5 linked regions of the Homo sapiens genome follow. Changing the gene in region 5 together with the main gene of any one other region gives a genetic interaction. Each region holds a gene or a part of one and is shown on either strand. Other genes may lie near its edges. The genes, in order: MAPKAP1, SDHC, GATB, KCTD10 and PTCD1.

What was found.
Region 1: changes in PTCD1 (region 5) and MAPKAP1 together harm fitness more than expected from each alone (negative genetic interaction), as found in Homo sapiens cells (one large-scale study listed by BioGRID).
Region 2: changes in PTCD1 (region 5) and SDHC together harm fitness less than expected from each alone (positive genetic interaction), as found in Homo sapiens cells (one large-scale study listed by BioGRID).
Region 3: changes in PTCD1 (region 5) and GATB together harm fitness less than expected from each alone (positive genetic interaction), as found in Homo sapiens cells (one large-scale study listed by BioGRID).
Region 4: changes in PTCD1 (region 5) and KCTD10 together harm fitness more than expected from each alone (negative genetic interaction), as found in Homo sapiens cells (one large-scale study listed by BioGRID).

The regions. Positions count from the first base shown.
Region 1 is NC_000009.12:125,668,624-125,673,338, forward strand, and holds part of MAPKAP1 (target of rapamycin complex 2 subunit MAPKAP1), read right to left. Parts: intron 4,021-4,715; 5' UTR 3,952-4,020; coding exon 3,693-3,951; intron 1,285-3,692; coding exon 1,195-1,284; intron 1-1,194. UniProt on the Homo sapiens protein: Component of the mechanistic target of rapamycin complex 2 (mTORC2), which transduces signals from growth factors to pathways involved in proliferation, cytoskeletal organization, lipogenesis and anabolic output.
Region 2 is NC_000001.11:161,358,757-161,362,134, forward strand, and holds part of SDHC (succinate dehydrogenase cytochrome b560 subunit, mitochondrial isoform 1 precursor), read left to right. Parts: intron 1-3,378. UniProt on the Homo sapiens protein: Membrane-anchoring subunit of succinate dehydrogenase (SDH) that is involved in complex II of the mitochondrial electron transport chain and is responsible for transferring electrons from succinate to ubiquinone (coenzyme Q).
Region 3 is NC_000004.12:151,669,428-151,674,646, reverse strand, and holds the end of GATB (glutamyl-tRNA(Gln) amidotransferase subunit B, mitochondrial isoform 1 precursor), read left to right. Parts: exon of another isoform or gene 1-1,750; coding exon 1,751-1,885; exon of another isoform or gene 1,886-3,058; intron 3,059-3,344; coding exon 3,345-3,473; 3' UTR 3,474-4,143; downstream 4,144-5,219. UniProt on the Homo sapiens protein: Allows the formation of correctly charged Gln-tRNA(Gln) through the transamidation of misacylated Glu-tRNA(Gln) in the mitochondria. The reaction takes place in the presence of glutamine and ATP through an activated gamma-phospho-Glu-tRNA(Gln).
Region 4 is NC_000012.12:109,466,423-109,471,137, forward strand, and holds part of KCTD10 (BTB/POZ domain-containing adapter for CUL3-mediated RhoA degradation protein 3), read right to left. Parts: intron 3,307-4,715; coding exon 3,093-3,306; intron 1-3,092. UniProt on the Homo sapiens protein: Substrate-specific adapter of a BCR (BTB-CUL3-RBX1) E3 ubiquitin-protein ligase complex. The BCR(BACURD3) E3 ubiquitin ligase complex mediates the ubiquitination of target proteins, leading to their degradation by the proteasome.
Region 5 is NC_000007.14:99,418,759-99,422,753, reverse strand, and holds part of PTCD1 (pentatricopeptide repeat-containing protein 1, mitochondrial), read left to right. Parts: intron 1-2,604; coding exon 2,605-2,787; 3' UTR 2,788-3,312; coding exon of another isoform or gene 3,313-3,363; 3' UTR 3,364-3,580; coding exon of another isoform or gene 3,581-3,592; 3' UTR 3,593-3,995. Other genes in the region: ATP5MF-PTCD1 (ATP5J2-PTCD1 fusion protein), read left to right, coding at 2,605-2,787. UniProt on the Homo sapiens protein: Mitochondrial protein implicated in negative regulation of leucine tRNA levels, as well as negative regulation of mitochondria-encoded proteins and COX activity. Also affects the 3'-processing of mitochondrial tRNAs.

The sequences.
Region 1 (4,715 bases), on a different chromosome or scaffold from region 5:
TTATTTCTGAAATTGTTTTTCTCCCCAAGTCTTTTCTTCTTGCTGAGACTGAAGCTTTGAAAGTATATAATATGGCCAGCCTTTATACACATACTATATGAAAATATACAGCAAATGCTAATAATACCAGCAACATAATGGTTTTTACACTAAGGGAAAAGAATTTGCATATATGCAAAAAAGACTGTTACTAGGCCCACTAATGGGGCAAGGAAAAGTCTAGGTTGGAACTGCCAAGAGAAATCTGTAACCTGGAAACTCATCCAAAATATCACAGGGGCTGGGCGCAGTGGCTCACGCCTATAATCCCAGCACTTTGGGAAGCCAAGGCAGGTGGATCACTTGAGGCCAGGAGTTCGAGAACAGCCTGGCATGGTGAAACTCCATCTCTACTAAAAATACAAAACTTAGCCAGGCATGGTGGTGTGCACCTGTAGTCCCAACTACTTGGGAGGCTGAGGCAGGAGAATTGCTTGAACCAGGGAGGCGGAGGCTGCAGTGAGCCGAGATGGCACCACTGCACTCCAGCCTGGGTGACACAGCAAGACTCCGTCTCAAAAAAAAAAAAAAAAATCGGCTGGGCACAGTGGCTCATGCCTGTAATCCCAGCACCTCAGGAGGCCACGGTGGGTGGATTACTGGAGGTCAGGAGTTCAAGACCAGCCTGGCCAACATGGTGAAATCCCATCTCTACTAAAAATACAAAATTAGCCAGGTGTGGTGGCATGCGCCTGTAATCCCAGCTACTGAGGACGTTGAGGCAGGAGAATCGCTTGAACCGGGGAGGCAGAGGCTGCAGTGAGCCAAGACCGTGCCATTGCACTCCGGCCTGGGCAAAAAGAGTGAAACACTATCTCAAAAAAAATAATAATAATAAAAATCAAATCATAGGGTACTCCTTGGCCTATATTTTTTTAAAAAATCAGAAAAAAATACTGACATGACAGCTTGTAAAAAATGTCCCCTGCACACATCAATCCCTGTGACCCAGAGTGAAGGGTGGCCAAAAAGCCAAGAACTAAAGAGCATATAGCTTCAGAGGGTCAAGGCACACAAGAGAAAGAGCTCAAAGCTCAAAACACTAGAGGTATCTAAGTCCAGAGGATTTAAAAGGATGAATTAAAAATAAAAGTTCTTATATAATAAACTAAATATATAAATCTCAAATTAAGAATTAAAATCATTTCCATTTACCTGATTGCTTAGAATTTCTTTCTTTCCACTGAATATTTTTGCATTTGATCTGGTTTTGTCTCTCTTTTCGGAGTCGTTCTAATCTTTGAGCTTGAAAAGAAATATTATAACTGTAAGTTTGTCAATGAAAGTTTACCATAAACAAAGACATAATTAACTACCTTTACATGAATAAAGATGTTTTATATTGCATATGTAGAGAAAAAGTCATAAAATTTTAAAGGTGGCACCCCTGAAAAGCAAATACCAACAAAAACATGAAAATATTCTTGATTTATAATTGAAATTAGAGGATATAAAACACTAATAGAGATCATAAAGATAGTATTAACATGGAAGAGAATAATAAAATGTGAAAACTTCTGTGATTAATATGACATTTCATTATATAAATCATTAATAACGGTCTTAAAGGAATTTTAATGCACAAATGAACTGAAGTGAATATTACATTACAGGAATAAAATTACTGTTATGAATTACTCTACCCATTTCAAAAATTAAAGATAAATGAACTCAGACTAGACTATTAAAGTTTTAAATATAAAATCCTTTATCTAAAAATCATGAAAATTATAAAATGTCAAAGCTATATAAATTAGCATAGCTTTTCTTCAGTGGGCTGAAACAGTTTATAGGTAGTAAAATAAATGATTTGTATCTTTGTAACATTAGTCAAATCTTAAAAAGAACAATTTTTCTTTTACAAAATTTTAAGATATGCTGCATGGATTAAAAAGTAAATTCTTTGGTCACTAAGACAACCTACAATCTCAATTAATTATTAGCATCTAAGTGCTACCTAAAGAAATTCCAACAAGAGTCACCTAAAATTATGCATTTGTGATTATATTGCCACTGGCTGATCAACCTTCAAAAATCAGTGAACTGATCCTTTAGAGAAATACCACCCAGCATGCACTTAACAACTGCCGCATACAGAGACCACAATAAAAAAGAAAGTCACAATTGATGCCATCTCTTGAAATCAGTTTTCTCTTGCTAATCTTCAGCTTCCTATCCCAGCATTTTGCTAATAGAAAATAAATACATCTCTTTTTCCGCCTCTTTCAAGATAGGAAATTATACACTTCTGCCTTAGCATTGTGGTAGGGAAACACTGAAAATAATCTTACCAGAAATTTAAACTATGCTGGGAAGAGCATTCTGACAATGTCACTATATCTAACCAACACTGAAGAAAACTACATTCAATTGCAATTAATAAATGTGAAGGGTACAGCCAAAGTAATATAATCATAAAGCTCTCAATTTAGCAGCATTCTCCCACTGAAATACATTCAACCTGTCATATAAGATATCATCTCAATAACCTGCAAGGAAGTCAGTTTCAACTAGAGAACTGAAAATCAATGGTTCTAAATTATATTCAAACCTTCACTCAAATCCTATTTTGACAAAAGTTCCTTTAGATACTGGGAAATGCTATTAATTATTTTCATCATGAGAGCAAATTATTCTTATGTCACAGATACTGAATTCTGAACCAAAACTTGAATGTGCCTTTCACAGTAAATTGTATCCAGCTCTACCTCCAATATTCCTTTATGTGTGTTTTACATTTGGACCATGAAAATAAATATGTAAGTATTTTCAGTGTTCTACTATATCTCCTTGCCATTACCTTTCCTGGGAGTTAGCAGGTTACTGCTAATTTGAAGATTATATTTTCTGATTATCTAAAAAAAATTACCTCCTAGAATACCTGTCATATTAGAACTACAATATGTATTCTAAATAATTTGTCTAAGTAAAAAAAAAAGTCCTTGGTTCATCACATTCCCCTTGAAACAAGGCCACCAAAAAAATATAAGTGGGAAAATGGGCAATAAGCTTTTAAAGCTAATGACTAAATACGTGTATACCAAAGTTGAGTGTTTTCAAGCCAGAAAAATCAAAAGGTGATCAATTTAAGAAAATAAAGGCGAAGTATCAAAAACAGGGGCCCCTTTTCTAATCTCACACCCTATGTATAGAATCCTACTAAAACCAGCCCTAACAAATACTCAGGTGTCTCCTCCCATTTCCCCACTCCCCCACAATTCCTCCAGGGGCAAGAAGTGCCTGCTCTCTTTGGGTGGTCACCTCTCTGTATTAAATGCTCTTTATTATGTCAACCTGAAATCTGTCTCCGGGTAGTCTACCTACTGGGACTAATGTTGCTGTGTGAAGACACTCAAAGCCAGTCCACTTGCCTTTCTACACAATGACTTGTTAGAAATGTCCAACATGTCTCTCCTAACCAACTTTTTCACTATCCCCCTTCTGTCTACTTCTAATAATATTCTAGAGGCCCTCTCCATTCGCAGTCGCAGAGATGGAGATGTTGCTCAGACTCACTCTTAGTCTGACATATGCATGTTCCTATTAATACCCGGAAACATCCCCCATTAAGCCTATTCCAATATTATGCATTATTCCATAAGACTGTTTACTGATTTAAAGCTCAGAAGACATGACTAGAACACAATGTTTACCTGTGTTTGAGCGTCTTCTAATACCAAAGTCCCAACTTGAGGTAATATCGACTGACTGGGCATATACATAGCCCTGAGTCTCACCATTGCTTCCCTGAATTTCTGACCCACTGTCTCCAGGCATTGAAGGAGGATGAATCTTCTCTAGGTCAACATCATGATCAATGAGAACCATCTCACACATTCCCGTGTCATCACTGGTCACATGTGACTGTCGAATATGAGCTAGAATGATAGTTGGATTGTCCAAGAAGGCCATCCTTTCTGTGGGCCAATTTCCTTAAAAGGCTATTTTCTCCTCTTCATATTGTTTCACGAGCTCACCTACCTAGAAACATGATGTACACAGCAAATATTTAAGAATAAGGCAGAAAATGACTGAATCATTTTTCAGACACATTCAGTGTAGTAAAATGCCACCTTGAAAATCAACATTTATCCCTGTTCTGTGGAGCTTAAAAGGATTTAGTCTAAGCTGAAAGGAAATCCTTATAAGCACTAGGGGCTGCAGCTCTAGTCAATGAGATCTCTATAGAATCAGAAAGGAAGGCTTGCACTCTTGCAAAACAAATCACAGCAACTCCTTACAAGTCAGGCCACTCGAAGCACATAACTACTGTTAAAACAATATATTTTCCTTTCTTTCTCCCTTCACTATCATGCAATCTTCTCATTACTTTATAAGGTCATGGGGGAACAAGTTGTATTTTCCTCAAATGATGTGCTAAAGTACAAAACTCTATTTCATCAGTTTACATTTCCCCTCCTGTCATATGATTGTGAAGTGTTTAAAAGGGCACAGACAATGCTTTCAGAGTTACTAGGGGTTTTATAAAAATGATGTACCACCAAATTAATGTTGCTCAATGAATATATTTTCCTGTCAAGATAGTATTGTGTTTTTGTTGTTGTTGTTGTTGTGTTTTTTCTGAGACAGGGTATCGCGCTTGTTGCCCAGGCTGGAGTGCAGTGGCGTGATCTTGGCTCACTGCAACCTCCACCTCCCAGGTTCAAGATTCTCCG
Region 2 (3,378 bases), on a different chromosome or scaffold from region 5:
TCTCTACTAAAAATACAAAATTAGCCGGGCATGGTGGCACATGCCTGTAATCCCAGCTACTCGGGAGGCTGAGGCAGGAGACTTGCTTGAACCCGGGAGGCAGAGGTTTCAGTGAGCTGAGATCATGCCATTGTACTCCATCCAGCCTGGGCAACAAGAGCGAAATTCCGTCTCAAAAAAAAAAAAAAAAATACAAAAATTAGCTGGGGGTGGTGGCATGTGCCTGTAATCCCAGCTACTTGGGAGGCTGAGGCAGGAGAATCCAGGAGGCAGAGGTTGCAGTGAGCCAAGATCATGCCACTGCACTCTAGCCTGGGTGACAAAAGTGAAACTCAGTCTCAAAAAAAAAAAAAAGAAAAGATTTTATATTTTGTAGTCTCCCTAGTTTTGCTTCCAAGAAGGCAATTAAAATTCAGTTCTTTCTGTATTTTCATTACTTCTGAATCTGAGTCAACTGTCAGATGGATGCTTTTGCCTTAATTTGACTTTTTATTACTTCCAAATCATAGCCTTAGAGACAAGCACTTTCTGGATTTCAGTCTGGTCCAATAGACAGTTTAATGGAATAAAAAAAATGAGAGACTAAATTACTTATTAAATTAAGTGTCTGTATCAACTGTTCCCTGGGGCAGTGTTCAGTTTGATTTAAAATGACTTTTTACTTCCCTGAGGGGGAGGCAGTAGAGAGGGAGGACATTTCCATTAATGACTTCCTATTCCACAGAACAAAGCTCTGTAAAGAAAATCAGCTGATCAGCTTCCTCTGTTCATATTTTGGCTCAGACAGAGACTTGCCCTATATTTGTCTTTGTCTCAATATGGGGGTAAGAGAGGGGAGGTTTTATAAAATTGCAGAACTTAGAGCTTTTCTGCCCTGGTTCTTGCCTGTGATGGTAATCTTTTTGTTGAGGGAAGTGAAGAACCTAAGGGTCCTTAAGTCTGCTTTTATTTTTTCTTCTAGCAAGTACTGGCTGTGAGTGTGGGACAGGATTTTGTGTTTTCTGTGACAGTCTGCAGTTTTTGGCCTCTGAACTTGATAGTTGACTTGCCAGAAGATCTAATGGGGGAGTGAGGAGTGAAAGAGTAGGATGTTATAGGGTCTGTGGCATTCTAGGGAATATCCCTGCCTACTACTGCTACCCAGTAGGACTCACTCTCTATAAAACATTGTCCTTATTTAAGCAAAACAACTCTTTGTGGAATCTGCTTGACTCCTAATCTCCTAGTTAGAAGCAATTTGAGGGTTGAGGTGGAGGCATCTTCTCATCTTGATTTTTTTTTTTTTTTCTGGGCTTCCATCTTTTCTCTGAACTGACTCCTAATTTAGGCAGTTTTACATTCAGACTGTGGGTGTATGTGTGTATGTGTGTGTTAAGGCGCCATGTATGTGGGAAGTGTGGAAAATGAAGACTGCTTTTGCCCCATGGGCTCATTTAGTGACTTATAATATAATATTAATATGTTAATATCCCTAAGACACAAGAGAGTCAAAATTAGTGTTTTGTTAAATGTGGGGCTGGGGGCATGGTAGCTCATGTCTGTAACCCTAGCACTTTGGGAGGCCAAGGCAGGTGAATTGCTTGAGCTCAGGAGTTCAAAACTAGCCTGGGCAACGTGGCAAAACTTCATCTCTACCAAAAATACAAAAAATTAGCTGGGCATGGTGATGGGTGCCTGTAGTCCCAGCTACTTGGGAGGCTGAGGCAGGAGGATTGCTTGAACCTGGGAGGTCAAGGCCTCAGTGAGCTGAGATTGTGCCACTGCACTCCAGCCTAGGTGACAAAGTGAGACCCTGTCTCAAAAAATTAAAAAAAAAAAAGTGGGGGTGGGTGGTGGGGTAGGGGCTGGGTGAGATGGCTCACACCTGTAATCTCAGCACTTTGGGAGGCTGAGGCGGGAGGATTGCTTGAGCCCAGGAGTTCAATACTAGCCTGGGCAAGACATAACAAGAGTCTATCTCTATTTTTTAGTATTAAAAAGAAAAGTGGGTTTTAACTCAATTGGTAGAAAACCAATTTAGTGGCATGCTACCAACAAAAAAAGAAATTTAAATAGAATAGAAAATATAGGCTGGGGCTGGGCGTGGTGGCTCATGCCTGTAATCCCAGCACTTTGGGAGGCTGAGGAGGGTGTATCACTTGAGGTCAAGAGTTTGAGACCATCCTGGCCAACATGGTGAAACCCCATCTCTACTAAAAATACAAAAATTAGCTTGGCATGGTGGCATGCGCCTGTAGTCCCAGCCACTGGCAGGGCTGAGGCAAGAGAATCGCTTGAACCTGGGAGGCTGACGTTGCTGTGAGCCAAGATGGCGCCACTGGAGTGGCTGGGTGCAGAAGTTCACGCCCGTAATGCCAGCTTTTAGGGAAGCAGAGGCAGGAGGATAGCTTGAGTCCAGGAGTTCAAGACCTGCCTGAACAATATAATGAGACCCCGTTCTCCACAAAAAGGAGAAAATATATGTTTTTTAATGAAGTTTATTTATATATAAAATATATAAATATATACTTGTATATATATGGCACCACTTAGTAATGGTAAATATTGTTTTATCAACTTTTGCTATATTATATATACATATCTATTGGGTTCCAGTTTTAAAGGTATTTCTTAGTGGAGTCACAGTCAAAACAAAATTGAGAAATAGTGTTCTAGATCTCAGAGTATCCTTTAGAATACTAGTCCTCTGATAAATAGAGTTTCCCTCTATAAAAAGATTCTGAGATTGACTGTATCTAGGAAATCAGGCATATTATATCTCTCTTTTGGAGATTCACAGTGTGCATTAGTAAACTGTAAGAGGCTGGGCGCAGTGGCTCACGCCTGTAATCCCAGCATTCTGGGAGGACAAGGCGGGCAGATCACGAGATCAGGAGATCAAGACCATCCTGGCTAACTCGATGAAACCCCATCTCTACTAAAAATACAAAAACAAAATTAGCCAGGCGTGGTGGCGTGTGCCTCTAGTCCCAGCTACTTGGGAGGCTGAGGCAAGAGAATGGCATGAACCTGGGAGGTGGAGCTTGCAGTGAGCTGAGATCATGCCACTGCACTCCAGCCTGGGCGACAGAGTGAGAGTCCGTCTCAAAAAAAAAAAAAAAAAAAAAACTGTTTAGAAAGTCTTGCAGTTAAATGTTTATGAACTTTGTATGACCACAGAACTTTTTTTTTTTTGGCCCATACAATGGCTTTCAACATTCTGAGAGCAAGTGTTTGGAAGAATACACCTTGAGAAACATTAATCTAGATGTGTGGTCCTGAGGAAAAGTTGTATCTATTCATTCTGGAAGCTTTTGTATACCGTATGGGGCCTGTGGCATTCTAGAGAACATTCCTCCTACCATCACCACACAATAGAACCTGATTTTCTGTCATTGG
Region 3 (5,219 bases), on a different chromosome or scaffold from region 5:
AGAAAGCAGGACACAAACTGAATATACGTTATGATCCCAAGTATGTTACAAAACAGAAAGAAAAAGATGGGAAGAAAAAACACCAAAATATTAACATTGGTTTTCTTGAGAAAATGGGAATTCCGGTGATCTCTTTTGATCTCTCCTGTATTTCCTTATATTTTCTGCAGTGAATGTGTATTAACTTTTATTATTAGAAAATGATTTTTAAAATTTAAGTCCTAGTTCAAAAAATAAACGTGTCAGAGAAAGGGGGCAGATGGACTCCTCCGACTTACAGGGCAGCTCCATGGAACGCCATCCAGGTCCCCAGTGCTTCTGCTGGCAGCACTCCACTGATAAGCATGTTGAGAGTGAGGAAGTTTCTTCCCGCTTCTGTGCCCCCTTTCTCCCAATGGTTTCCTCATTGTCAGGCCACGTACATATCTGCTGAATTGAGTTGGAGGCACGTGCATTCTGTATTTTTCTAAGAGTAGGGCCAGGCTTTTCCTGAGCAGTCGGGCAGCGGCAGAGGGGTGCCCTGTAGGGAGCTTACCCAGGACCTGCCAAGCACACCTCCTTGGCCACAGTCACAGCGCACGTTCTGAGGCACCAGGCTGAAGGCGCAGTGCCTGTCCCAGCAGTGATAAGTATTTGTGGTTTGTTTTTGAATCAGACTGGGGAAGACTTTGAGCCCTGCTGAGACTCAGAGCATCTCCCTTTTATTTGCTTTGCTGTTCGTGCTAATTATGGAAGAGCTCTGTTTTTCCAGGAGGAATGGCTCCTGGTTGGCCCGTTCTCGGCCACCAAGGTAACAGGGAAAGTTGGGTGTTCAGTCATGACTGTGGACTGGACGGAGGTGGCACCGGTGGGAGACCAACAGAGGAAGCCCTCCTCCCGGCTCCCAATTCTGGCTTTCGCTAGAAGACAAGAGAAATGAGGAAAACAGCTACCCTAGGAAATAGCCTTCCTTGAAAATGGTTTCCTTTTTCTCAGGTTTGATGAATTTGGGGATTTGTTGTTGTCATTTTTTAAGTAAAAAAAAAATGCCCCAAACATTAGCGTTCATTATCCTAGTCTGATTTGGGTCCGGCTCTACCTGTAGGAGATGAATGTGGTAGGCCAGGGGGCCCCTGTGGATTCTAATTTATGTTTTCAGTTGTTTGCCATTTTGTATCTTCATTACGGGGCTACTTTCCTGCCTCCCTAAAGTCATCTTTCCCAGCATGCTGTTTCTGGACTTTATTTAGTACCGTGGTTACCTCCTGCAGGCTGTGTGGCCCCATCCTTCACCAAAATGTCACCTCAATTAATTCGGCGGCCATGAGACAGATCCATCAGTGGCCCGCCGACTCCCGTCAGCAGGCGCCCATGAGTGATGGGCACCTCCACGCCTCCCGCGGCCCCCCCCCGCCATGTGGAGTCAGCCGGGCAGGACTCACCATCCCTCTGGGCACGAGGGCATCTGGCTGGCCCGAGTCCTCTCACACCTTATGCTGAGGGAGACTTCAGCCTCAGGAGGAGACCCCAGGTGCATTCACTCCACCTAGCTGGCCTTGTTCCCCAGCCCTGCACTCAGGGATGCCTCAGGAGAGCCAACGCTCTGGCAGGGCAGCCAGGTGCCCTTTCCCTTTGGGCCAGGCCCAGGCAGTGGGGACTTAATTGAATCTGCTCATTCCCACCCCAGCTCCACACAGCACAGCACTGCAAATGGAGCTGGCAGAAGAGCTGACTTCTCATTTCTCTTTCCTCTCCCTTCTCTGGTCCATAGGTGTTTGAGGAACTGTGGAAGAGGGAAGGCAAGACTCCAGGGCAGATTGTTTCAGAAAAGCAGCTTGAACTGATGCAGGACCAGGGGGCACTGGAGCAGCTCTGCCACTCTGTGATGGAGGCCCATCCTCAAGTGGTGACTATCTCGGGCAGGGGAGAGGGCCAGAGCCAGCCCCAGGACATGCCCAAGAGCCTCGCCATCGCTCCCTGTGGCAGCCCAGAGGCTCTTCCTAAGAATGGCTGACCCAGTTTCATCAATAATTCCCTCACTGTCATCTTTTTAGTTAAGGTCAGAAGAGATGAAATAGGTGGATATTGGAAAAACACAACTTCTTTTCCTATAAGAAGGATGCCACCCCTGGAGTTTACTCTCCATGGAGGTGTAGTTTAAAAGGGTGTCAGCAAGCTCACGAAATCCAAGCTGTGACCTCCCAGGTGTGTCGCCCTCTCCCAGGGTTGGCATTTCGAATCTGTTGTGGTTAGCGCTACTTCCTAAGGACCTCCCAGTAAAGAACCAGCAGGTGTGCCGGCAGAGCAGGGAGAGTACAGGAACTTCAGCTTCATGCTTCTAAGAGGTGGGAAGAAAGGCAGAAGGGAAAAGTATTCATAAATTGTGGAGAAAATCCCTGACAGGAGCATGACTGAAAACCAGGTCATTTTGTGTTCTTAGCACAGCACAAGACATAAAAGCTAAAACGAGTGGCATCCCTCCCTCCCCAAGTCTAATCATATTGTCTAGAGATATTTTTTCAGTGGGGAAAAAAATTGTCGGCATCTTTTTCAGAATAATACCCACCCACCCATCAGCTTGCCGGGGACACTCACAGCTCTGTAAAGAGCTCTCGATAAGGAAAATGAGCCTGCACTGGGCCTCCACAGCCTCGTCTTCCTGCCTCATCTGTGGTGACTGATAAAGACGTGCCAGTAGTTTCAGGCTTGTTCTGTGGCACTTGAGTGCAGATCCTCATGTCATTGCCCTTGGAGACGCTGCAGAGCAGGAGGTCACGTGGTGGCCCTAAGAGTCAGTGGCTATCTGATAGGAATTCAGCACCTCCTGGCTTCCTCACTCCCCCTGCCCACACAGCACACTCCCCCCGACCCAGCGCTCTGGAAGACTCGGCCAGTGTGTAGATCTGCTTTCTGATAAAGGAATCTTCTTGGTGGGGAGCAGGGGGAGAAGGAAAGCCACACATTTCAGCTGAACATCACTGAGAATCAGAGAGGTGTCCTCACTGATTAGACGCAGTGATTCATCATCTCAGAGAGATTATCCCTCCCCAGACTCAGTGTCCTCGGTCATTGTGGCGTCGCAGAGGGGAGGGCCCTGGCTCCCACGTGCCAGCTTCTCTGGCTTTCGGCAATCACTTCTTGCTCATTTTAATCAGAAAGCAGAGTAGCAAAAATCTCCTTTGACAGGAGCCTAGAAACCTACTCAGAAGTGAGGCCCCTCCCCTTTTTCTGTTCTACATTTTATGTCTAATACTAGTGGAAATAAGCGGAATTTAATTTTCAGTAAACTTAAGCCTTAGTTTGGGATTTGGGGGCATGAATCCCTTCATTTTCTCCTCTTAAGTAAGTAATTTCTGTCCTTCTAGGTAATGGATGTGAAGAACAGAAACCCCAGAGCTATAAATAAACTGATTGGGTTGGTCCGGAAAGCGACTCAAAGCCGAGCAGATCCAGTCATGATAAAGGAGATCCTGGAGAAGAAGCTGTCATTGTGAGATGTTTGGGATCCCCTTGCCCAAGGGACAACAACAAACAGTGCAGCCTGACTGGGAACAGGATCCTGTGAAAGCTGATGCCCATGTGCCCTGAGAGCTGCCTCTCAATCCCTGTCCCAAGCCACAGCTATGGCATTAATGTCACCAGTGTTCTCACCCTCTAGGCCCTGTGCCTGGAGGTGCCTCCACAGCCGACCAGCAGCCACCCCGCCTGCTTCATCCACATCAGGAGGGTCCGGTGAGGCTGCAGCAGTGGTTAAGGAGTAACACCTTCTTGTATTAAGGAATTTTAAACTAAATAAAATGTATGTTGGAGATACTGTTACCCATTCTAAGAAAACTTTTCATTCTGCAGTTCCTTCAACAAATATTTTTGAGCAACTCCTAAGGGCCAGCCATTGTAGGTGATGGGCATTAGCAGTGGTCAAGAGAGACTGTAATTTGGATGTATTGTTTTCAGACCTAAACACAGGTTAACAAAGATGAAAATACAACCAAATAAACTGGCACAGTATAAACACATTTGTTTGTTTAAGGAGGTCTCAAGAGGGTGGGGAAGGAGGATATTATTAGAATTAATCAACCTATCGACTGAGTAGAAGTGATATTGCCTGTTAAACTCCCTCCCCATCCCAGAAGGCACAGTCTGAGAATAAATGAATTAAAAAAATAAGTTTTCCAATAAATTTAATCAATAAAATATATACTGAAATATCACATAAAAATTAACTTACACTTCAAAGATTGTGCAGCTGACAACTCCCCCAAATCCCCCAACCCTCAGGCCAAACAAGATAAAAAGAAACAAGAAAAAAGTTGTAACATGAAATTGACTTGTTTTGCTTGGAAATAAGATTATAAATTAGTAAATCAAAATCTTGACCTCTCATGATAATCGTGGTGTGCTGCAGGCATCACGATGAAGGCGGGGCTGTCTGCACTCCTGTGCTTGCGACACTAATACTGTTCTCTCCACTGCACCGGAGCACCTTTGTTCGGTATATATATGCCTTTGTTACCTCTGACTCACGTCGCTTAAAGACCAGTTTTGCAAATGTTGTTTTTTAAAAGCATACTTGTCAAAACTGTGATGTAAGAGAATAAAATCCTTGGAGGCCTTGATTTGAAGCTGTGAACCTGTAGCCTACCAAGGACAGTAAAAACATTCCCGTTGTGAACACTGCTCCAGAAGCAGCTGAGGAACTAGAAAAAAGTGGACACCCCTCCATCACCAATTCAGCGACTCATGCTTCCTGGCTTGCACAGTTCCTCAGGACTTCCCTGAGAGTGATGAGAAAGGTGCCCCTCTTCCCCAGCCCAAAAGGTAGGCAGAGAAAGGTAACCAGTTGCGTGGTTCATTTTGGACAGGCATGAGGAGGTGGCTTTTTAAAAAAAGTCGTTTAAAAAAATTAGTGACAGAATTTTAAGAGACTATGTGACCTTACCCGGGAAGCCAGGTGCCCCGCATCCTGTTGCGGTCCTGAAAACTACTGGGTCTAAAGTAACATGATTTTCACCAAATCTCTCTACAAGACAGTAAGGCTGAAGCAGTTCTCTCCTCACTCTGCAAGTCTGAATTACAAATGGGCAAAGGTGGTCTGAGACTGGAGTCTGACAGGATCTTTATTTTGTAAGAAAGGAGAAGGTTCAGTTTCATTTTATAAATTCTGTTTTCACCAAAAGTTCTGGCTTCTTGGTGACTAAACCTTACAGAAAGCATCGAAGATCTTTCCAGACCATTTAAAA
Region 4 (4,715 bases), on a different chromosome or scaffold from region 5:
AGGTTCAGAGAAAAAGCCACTTGTCCAATGTCACATGACCAGTAAATGGCAAATAGGCCAAAATTAGCACAACATGTAGACAGAGCTCCACAAATGTCGGCTGTGACTGTGACATGCAGCAGAGCCAGGTGTTGAACCCAGGCCTGGCTAACATCAACATCCAAGTTCTTCTTGGTTTAGGAGTTACTTGCACACAGTACAAAACTCAATCAGGTAGAAGGGCCCAGAGCAAAAAGGAGACTATTCCCCCCATGCTGGATGCCAGGTCCCCTCTCCTGAAGCAATCACTTTCTTGGGCAACATGACACATCCCCTGTTCAGGACCTTCAAAGCCCCTGTCCTTTAACCAGCAAGCTGTACTGCTGGATTCACTGCCTGGCTGAGCTGCACTTGGCATTTCTGCCTATTTGTAGCAAACTTCATTGCAGCTGACAGGCTTCCAGCCTGTAGGCCAGGGTAGAGCTGCAGGATGCAGGGAGTCTATCCCAGTTTGTAGACCCAAGGGTGCATTTGAGGCAACATGCAGGCCATGGGTCAGGCTATGCAGTGCTCTCTCCAAGGACCGACAGGATCGCTCTGCCAGACACAGACAACAGCTGGAAGGCCAGATACCCAGCCTACCAGCCCAGGCCTTCACGAGGGCCCCCACCAGAGGGCTTTAGCACAAAGACAGCAGTTAAACCATAAGGATGCCACACTCAAATGATCTGGCCTTGGACCAGGCCCACAACTAGCCATGGACAGCAGACAGTAAGAGGCAGCAAGTCCTGGGTTCAGCAGCTTCACCTTTTCTAGTCCCATCAGCTTTTGAAAAAGCATTTCACCTCTGAAATGGGGACTCCTCACTTGGAATGGCAACAACAGTATCCACCCCTCGAAGGGTTATGGTGAGGATTAAATGAAACAATACCCATCGGCTGTGCGTGGTGGCTCACGCCTGTAATCCCAGCATTTTGGGAGGCTGAGGTGAGAGGATGGCTTGAGCCCAGGAGTTCGAGGCCAGCCTGGGCAACATAGTGAGGCCCCATCTCCAGAAAAAAATTCTAAAAATTAGCTGTGTTTGGTGGTGCATGCCTGTATTCCCAGCTACACAGAAGGCTGAGGCGGGAGGATTGCTTGAACCCAGGAGATGGAGGCTGCCGTGAGCTATGATGGCCCTAGTGCACTTCAGCCTGGGTGACAGAGAAAGACCCTGTCTCAAAAAAAGAGAAAAGAATGCCCCATAAAATGCCATACCATTAGCTTTTCATAATGATATGAAGCAGGGGCTGAGCTCCGGTGACATGAAACAAGTCACAGTTTGCAGTGTCAAAATGACACTGTGTCCCCCGAGAACCTGTGTTTTCCAGGCAGCACCAGGAGAAAAACATCTCATAGCAGGGATTTAGAAGGTGAGCAGTCCTGCCAGTACCACTCGTATGCTCTGTCCAGTCGGGGACAGGGGGACAGAGGAGTCCGTTTCTTTTTTGATATGGCATCAGGCCACCAAGGCGAGGCCTTTCGAGGAGAAGAGCCTCAGCTTTCGAGGCAACTCAGCAGCCTTTCCTGAGCCCCTCCAGAGAGTGGGTAGGGTATGAGAAAAACCACAACAATCCTGGTTCTCAGATAATGCCTGCTTCCTCCAGCAGCGGGGGTGCTATTGTCTTGATTTCCACAGATACTCTCGGGCCATGTGGGGTGTGGCACAGCAAAGAGGATCCTCCCACTCATAAAAAGCTAAGTGTGAGATGGCAGCTTTGGGGCTCCAACCTCAGTTCGCTGCTGCCTGAACAGAAACCGGAGTTCACAGGAAGCAGAACCTCCAGCCCCACACCCTGGCCTTCCCCAGGACACAGAGAGGAATGTCCTCACCAGTGGGTAGCCCAAGCCTCAGCCCTCTTAGGATCAGAGAATTAACTGTGGGACACCAGGCTTAGGTCCCCCAATCCCACCCGCTTATGTGAAAACTCACCCACCCTCCCAAGTCAATGTCCCTGGAAAGGTAGGGCAGCAGCACAGAAGACCAGTCTCAGAAACAGGAAGGCGGGGTCAAGGTCAAGCCAGGCTGTGCCCTGGCCTGGTCTTAAGCAATCTCAGGCCAAGGAATGAAGGATGGTACTATTTTTAAACCTCATGTGACCTGCACGCAAACCCAGCCAGGTAAGGATGGAGCCCTGTTGTCAGGGGCTCTTTGATCATTCCAGGTGAGTAGGAAGTAGTTATGACAATGCCCCTCTCAACAATTCTTTGCCTTTTTTTTTTTTTTTTTGAGACGGAGTCTCGCTCTGTCGCCCAGGCTGGAGTGCAGTGGCGCGATCTCAGCTCACTGCAAGCTCCGCCTCCCGAGTTCACGTCATTCTCCTGCCTCAGCCTCCCGAGTAGCTGGGACTACAGGCACCCACCACCACGCCCGGCTAATTTTTTGTATTTTTAGTAGAGATGGGGTTTCACCTTGTTAGCCAGGATGGTCTCGATCTCCTGACCTCGTGATCCGCCCGCCTCAGCTTCCCAAAGTGCTGGGATTACATGCATGAGCCACTGTGCCCAGCCGATTCTTTGCCTTTTAATAACATGACTTTCCACAAGAAAAAGAAAAACGTGTGTGTGTGTGTGTATATCTATCTATCTATCTACACACACACATATACACACATGCACTGAATACTGACTATGTGCCGATGGCCCCACGGGGGAGGGTATTGTCATGCCCATTTCACCAGAGGAAGAAAATGAGACCAAAAGCTTCGGCCACTTGGTTAGGATCACCAGATACTAATGGGGAGCTGAGACTGAAACCCAGGTTGGCAAGTCTTTGTCAAGACCCCATCTTGGGAGGACAAGGGTCCAGGGAAGATACCTCTCTCTCCCCCAGGCTTGAGTTTCACTCTGAAGTCACAGAAGCATGGCAGAGATAAGCAAGCTAAGCCCTGGGTGAGGAAGTGACTTTCTCAAAGTAACATAGCAAATCAACGACCAAGTCAAGATGGTGGGAGTCCCCAACAAGCTGCCTCCTACACATCTTCAGGTCTCGACTTAAATGTCACTTCTTCAGGGAAGCCCTCCTTGACCACATAACGCATGGCCAGAGGCAGGCACATGGTGGGTGAGCTTACCTTCACTGTCGGTGAGCACTTCCATGCGCCCGCTGAACATGGCCTTCAGCATGGTGTCCTGCTTGGTCAGCGTCTGCATGGTGGTATAGTAGAGGGCTCCACCCACATTCAGCTTCACGTATTTGGAGCTGGGGCTCGTGCCCTTGAAGGAAGTGGTGCGGGTAGCAGCCGCTGGCACCGCTGAGCTCACCACACTTTCTCCTGACATCTCTTCCTGCCAGTGGAGAGGATACAGGGTCATGACATCAGGCCTGGTTGACTGCTTTCAGCCTGTGGATTCAATCTGGCCTCCAGATGTGTTTTGCTTGGGCCACGCATACACAGCATTTAAAAGTTTGCTTCCAATGTGGACAACTAAGGAGAGCTCACAGAAAAATCTGGACTTCTGGCTTCTCCTAAAATCAGAGGCCAACTGGGCTAGCAGGGGAACAACTGGTCAGAGCTGGGGTATTGGATGACCCCTAGAGAGGGCCATGCATCCCCTAGTTTGTCCCAAAACCCACCCAAAAAGCCTCATACACTGACCCTGCCTGTCGACCCTGCAGGCACAAGGGTGCCCCTAACTCTTGTGTTATAAGCACTTCCTTTCTGCCTAGCACCTGTATACATGAACACCCTGGCTGCACCCTAAAACAGCCTAAAGCACTGCCCAGGTCTCTTTACATTTCCTTATTGCCATGTACCACTCAATAGCTAGCTAAGTGTCATTTTTCAGCTGCATCACAGATGAAATAAGCTTTATGAAGTTGAATGGGATTCCAGCTGGCACTCCTATCACTTCCTGTAGGGAGAAGGTGTTTCTGAGGACTAAACAACAGACATGGAAACTTTTGGAACCAAGTTATTGCAAAATTAGACCTCCTAGACTAGTGCTGCCCAAAAGAGCAAGATCCCACTACCATCTCCCTGATAGCATGGCTGACTCTCTGTACATCTCAAAGAAATGGATACAGTGGCTGATTTACGCAGGCCTGGAAAGTGAGATTGGTATCCGGCACATGTGTACTCAGAGCAAACATGTCTGAAATGAACAGGTAAAACTGTAGAGGTGGAGATGTGCAAGGGTGGGCAGAATCTTTGCTGAATCTGGGGTAGCCCCCACGGCTGGCCCTACCATTCCCATTGAACATCAACAGTTTTTCACAGCACATCACCCTCAGACAAGGCCACTCTGTGCCCTTGCGACAAGACAAAAACAGGACCATTCAGTCATCATGTCCGGACACAGACAAAAACATAAACATTATCCAAAATACAAAAATGACCAAAGATCCCCTATCCTGGCTAATAGGAGTTATAGCTGCTGCTTTACCAATGAGAGGTTTAGCCTCCTTCCATTCTTCCTGCTTTCAAGTCAGGAATCACTGAGACCCAATCACAGAATTAGCCCTGCTTCCCAGCAGCATCCAACACAGAGCAAAGCCCCACTTCTCTGAACTGTCTCTCAAATCACCCAACACAAGCCCACAGCCCTTCTCTGAGATGTCCCACAGTTCTTCCCCACCCCAATGCAACAAGGAAATAAACCCAACTTTGCTTGACTACAGGTATGCTCCTCGTGCTTTTTGGCTGCAGGGCACTGACAGCACATAACTTGTTTGAACTATTCCCTGAAACTGAAAA
Region 5 (3,995 bases):
AAAGAAGGGAAGATGGGGCCCCCACGTTGAACATATCTGGCTCCCAGGTAGCCCTTTTCTGTTGGCACAGCCGCCAGCATTTACCCCTGCAAGCTTCCAGTTTGCTTATCTATGTCTGCAGCTCGATTTTTCAGGCTGCTCTTTGTTAGAAAAGAAATTATTTGGGGGCTGCTTTTTATTAAAAGGGAAATTTCGCCAAGGACTCTGTTGCCCTTATTATCTGCCTAAATAATTTCTTTCAACCTCCTGTATCAGCAGGAGCAGGGCAGAGTCATGGAATCTGCTTTGTCACGGCCACAGCCTCTCCCTGCTGTTCTGAGGCTATCAGGCTCTGGGGTTTGGCTTTTGGGTCCATCGAATCACACTCTGTGCTGAGCATCTCCGGAGCATCGAGAGCCACTATGGCTTGAAGCACAGCCCGGATGGGGCGGAAACAAGTAAATGGGCAGGGACACACACAGCTAGAGGGTGCGGGGTCAGGAACGCCGTGCAGGTGTCACGCCTGAATGCCATTTTGAGGGCTTCCTACAAATAGGTGGGACAGCAATGGAAATTGTGTCTGGCTGAAGGCATAGCTGGGCATTTTTGAACTGTGTCTGTGCTTTGAACTGTTGGTTGCAAGCCTTTTCTCATTGATTCCAGGGTTTTTTATATATTCTGGGTACTGGTTTTTTGTTGATCACATGTTGTGCATATCTTCCTAGTGGATTGTCTCTTCCCTCTGGCGTAGGGCTCACTAGGGGTTCAACTCGACAGTCACAAGACTATCATAGACCTAAAGCATATCATATTTAAGTCACAGACAGATGTCCCTGACTTAAAGATGATTCTACACAGGATTTTTCAACTTTGCAATGGTTTTATCAGGATGTAACTCTGTAAGGATCGACTTTGTGCGGGGTTAGTTTCTACTGAATGTATATCACTTTTGCATAATTATAAAGTCAGGACCCTCTGCTGTGTTGCCAGCAATAGATGCATTTTCCTTTTGTTTTTTATGAGATGGAGTCTCACTCTGTCACCCAGGCTGGAGTGCAGTGATGCGATCTGGCCTCACTGCAACCTCTGCCGCCCAGGTTCAAGTGATTTTCCTGCCTCAGCCTCCCGAGTTGCTGGGATTACAGGAGCCTGCCACCACACCAGGCTAATTTTTGTGGTTTTTTTTTTTTTTTTAGTAGAGACGGGGTTTCACCATCTTGGCCAGGCTGGTCTTGAACTCCCGACCTCGTGATCCACCCACCCCAGCCTCCCAAAGTGCTGGGATTATAGTTGTGAGCCCCCATGCCGTGCCGCATTTTCTTTTTTCTTTTTTTTTTTTTTTTTTAAAGAGACGGGAATCACTCTGTTGCCCAGGCTGGAGTGCAGTGGCACGATTATGGCTCACTGTAGCCTTGACCTCCCAGGCTTAAGAAGTCCTCCCACCTTAGCCACCTGAGGAGCTGGGACTACAGGCATGTACCACTGTACCCAGCTAATCTTTTAGATAGGGTTTCACTATATTGCCCAAACTGGTCTGGAACTCCTGAGCTCATGTAATCCGCCTGCCTCGGCTTCCCAAAGCACTGGGATTATAGGAGTGAGCCAGCACACACAGCCAGATTGATTTTTGATTTACGATGGGTTTTTGGGGGGCGGAACCCTGCTGTCAGGAGCATCTGTACTCATATTCCCTCATGATGGTGGACTTGTTTATATTCGTGATTCTGTTGAGTTTTGCTTTCTGTGCTTTCAGGCTCTATCCGGCACCTTAAGGTTTAGAATTGTCCAGTCTTTTGAGTCAAACCTTTTTTTGTTTTTGTTTTTTTTTGAGATGGAGTCTTGCTCTGTCGCCCAGGCTGGAGTGCAATGGCGTGATCTCAGCTCACTGCAACCTCTGCCTCCCGGGTTCAAGCCATTCTCCTGCCTTAACCTCCCAGGTAGCTGGGGCTACAGGCATGCACCGCCACATCCAGTATTTTTAGTAGAGATGGAGTTTCACCATGCTGGCCAGGCTGGTCTCGAACTCCTGACCTCAAGTGATCTGCCCACCTCGGCCTCTCAAAGTGCTGGGATTACAGACGTGAGCCACCGCACCCGGCCAAACCTTTTGTCATTGTGTGGTAGTAGCTGTATGTTGGATAGCACTTTTTGGCTTTTTTGGTATATTCCCCTACCAGCTCTCAGTTTGTGTCTGGTGTGTCTTTGCTTTTTTCCCCATATCTCATGGAGCCTATCTTGGCAGTGTTGAGATAATGGTCAGAGGGAGGTGGCTTTGATGGGGAGGGGCTCGGCAGGCTGTGGAGGCAGAGCTGGTGGGACCCAGTGATTCTGGCTTGGGGGCCTGGGGTGGCAACTGCGGATGGAGGAGCACAGTGGTGCCTATTTGGGAAGAACGCCATTGGGCAGATGGCTCTGGGCCTGCCCCAGGGTACCCAGCGGGGACCTGTTTCTCTGAAGTAAGCTAGTCCCATAGTGCGTGTTCACAGCTTTTCTGCCCTGTCCTCTGCAGCCACCTGGAAGGGAAAATGGCAGCCACCAGCTTCCCTGAGGCCTGAGCCAGCTGCCGAGGTTTGGGATTAGCTGTAGGTAACAGGAGTGATTCTAGCCTCACTTTTCTAATTCTAGTACCAAGGGAAGAACACCTACCTGGAGAAGATTGACGGCTTCCGAGCCTATTACAAGCAGTGGCTGACAGTGATGCCCGCAGAGGAAACCCCGCACCCCTGGCAGAAGTTCCGGACCAAGCCCCAGGGGGACCAGGACACCGGCAAGGAGGCTGATGACGGATGTGCCCTTGGGGGCAGGTGATGGGAGCACAGCTGGAACAATGTGCTCGGCCCCCAGTGCTCTGTGGGAGCCCCAGGACAAGTGAGCTGGTGTCACCTCCTGCCTGGGGGAAGAGCCAGGCCCTGAGGAACAGCCGCAGCGTGTCACAGGTGTTGGTGAGGACACACACTAGGCCCAAGGTGCCTGTGCTCCCAGCAGGTCCAAGTGCAGCTCCAGCCACCTTTGCGTGTCACCTTCACGGGACTTCCAGCTCCAGCTACCTTTGTGTGTCACCTCACACACCACAAGGGGGCTGGGGCATCTGGTCCCTGGGGCCTGGGCCGCCCCGCCGGGTTCCATAGGCCGATGCTCTGAAAGAAGAGACGTGGGGCTCGAGAGATTTAAAGATTTTATTTTTACAAATCACAGCTGATAGACAGCGAAGCCTTCCCCATAGAGACCGTGCTCCAACTCGGGCCTGGGGCACTGCTCGCTGCTCCCAGGAAGGGGGTGGCGTGACAGGCAGGAACCTGCGAAGTCCAGAGTCCAGGGTGGAGCGCGCCAGCCTCAGCCAGAGCAGCCACGACAGCCACAGTGTGTGCACTCGATGATGCGGCCCTGCAACGGAGGAGGACAGTGAGACGATGCCACTGCGCCACGCTCGCCCCTGCACACTCACATATGTGGCAACCCTCCCACGAAGGACCTGCCACCATGCCATATAGGGACACACCTCAGAAACCCTTCCTTGACAGCTCTGGACAGGGAAAATTTGGCTCCCTCATGAAGGTAGAACCAGCTGCTGTTGACACCGAGGTTACATCTGTATGTCTATTTATAATATGTTCTGCAAATCCAACACACGTTTGCCAATCAAGAAAAAGAAATCGGTGTGAATGAGTCTCGTTATTCTGCTAAGTGAGCATGACAGACCCTGCGATGAGCAGACGTGGCTCTGCTACTGTTTGGGGACTTCAGGGGGGCCTCTGGGCTGGTACACTCTGGTGGGGGAAGAGGGCAGGAGACTATGCACTTGAGTCACACCCTTCTGGCCCAGAGCCCCCCAGAAAGAAGGGTCTTGTCCCCCAGGCCTGGTGCGGCCCAACACTTGGCCAGCCAGAAAGCCCTAGAACAGTGGCTTGTGTTTATTTTACTTTTTCAAGTTCTTTTTTTGGAAGAACAAGACCATAGTTTAAGTAAACAGGATCCTCTGGTGAAACCCAGGTAAGTCTACAGCGGGCTGTTTTGGC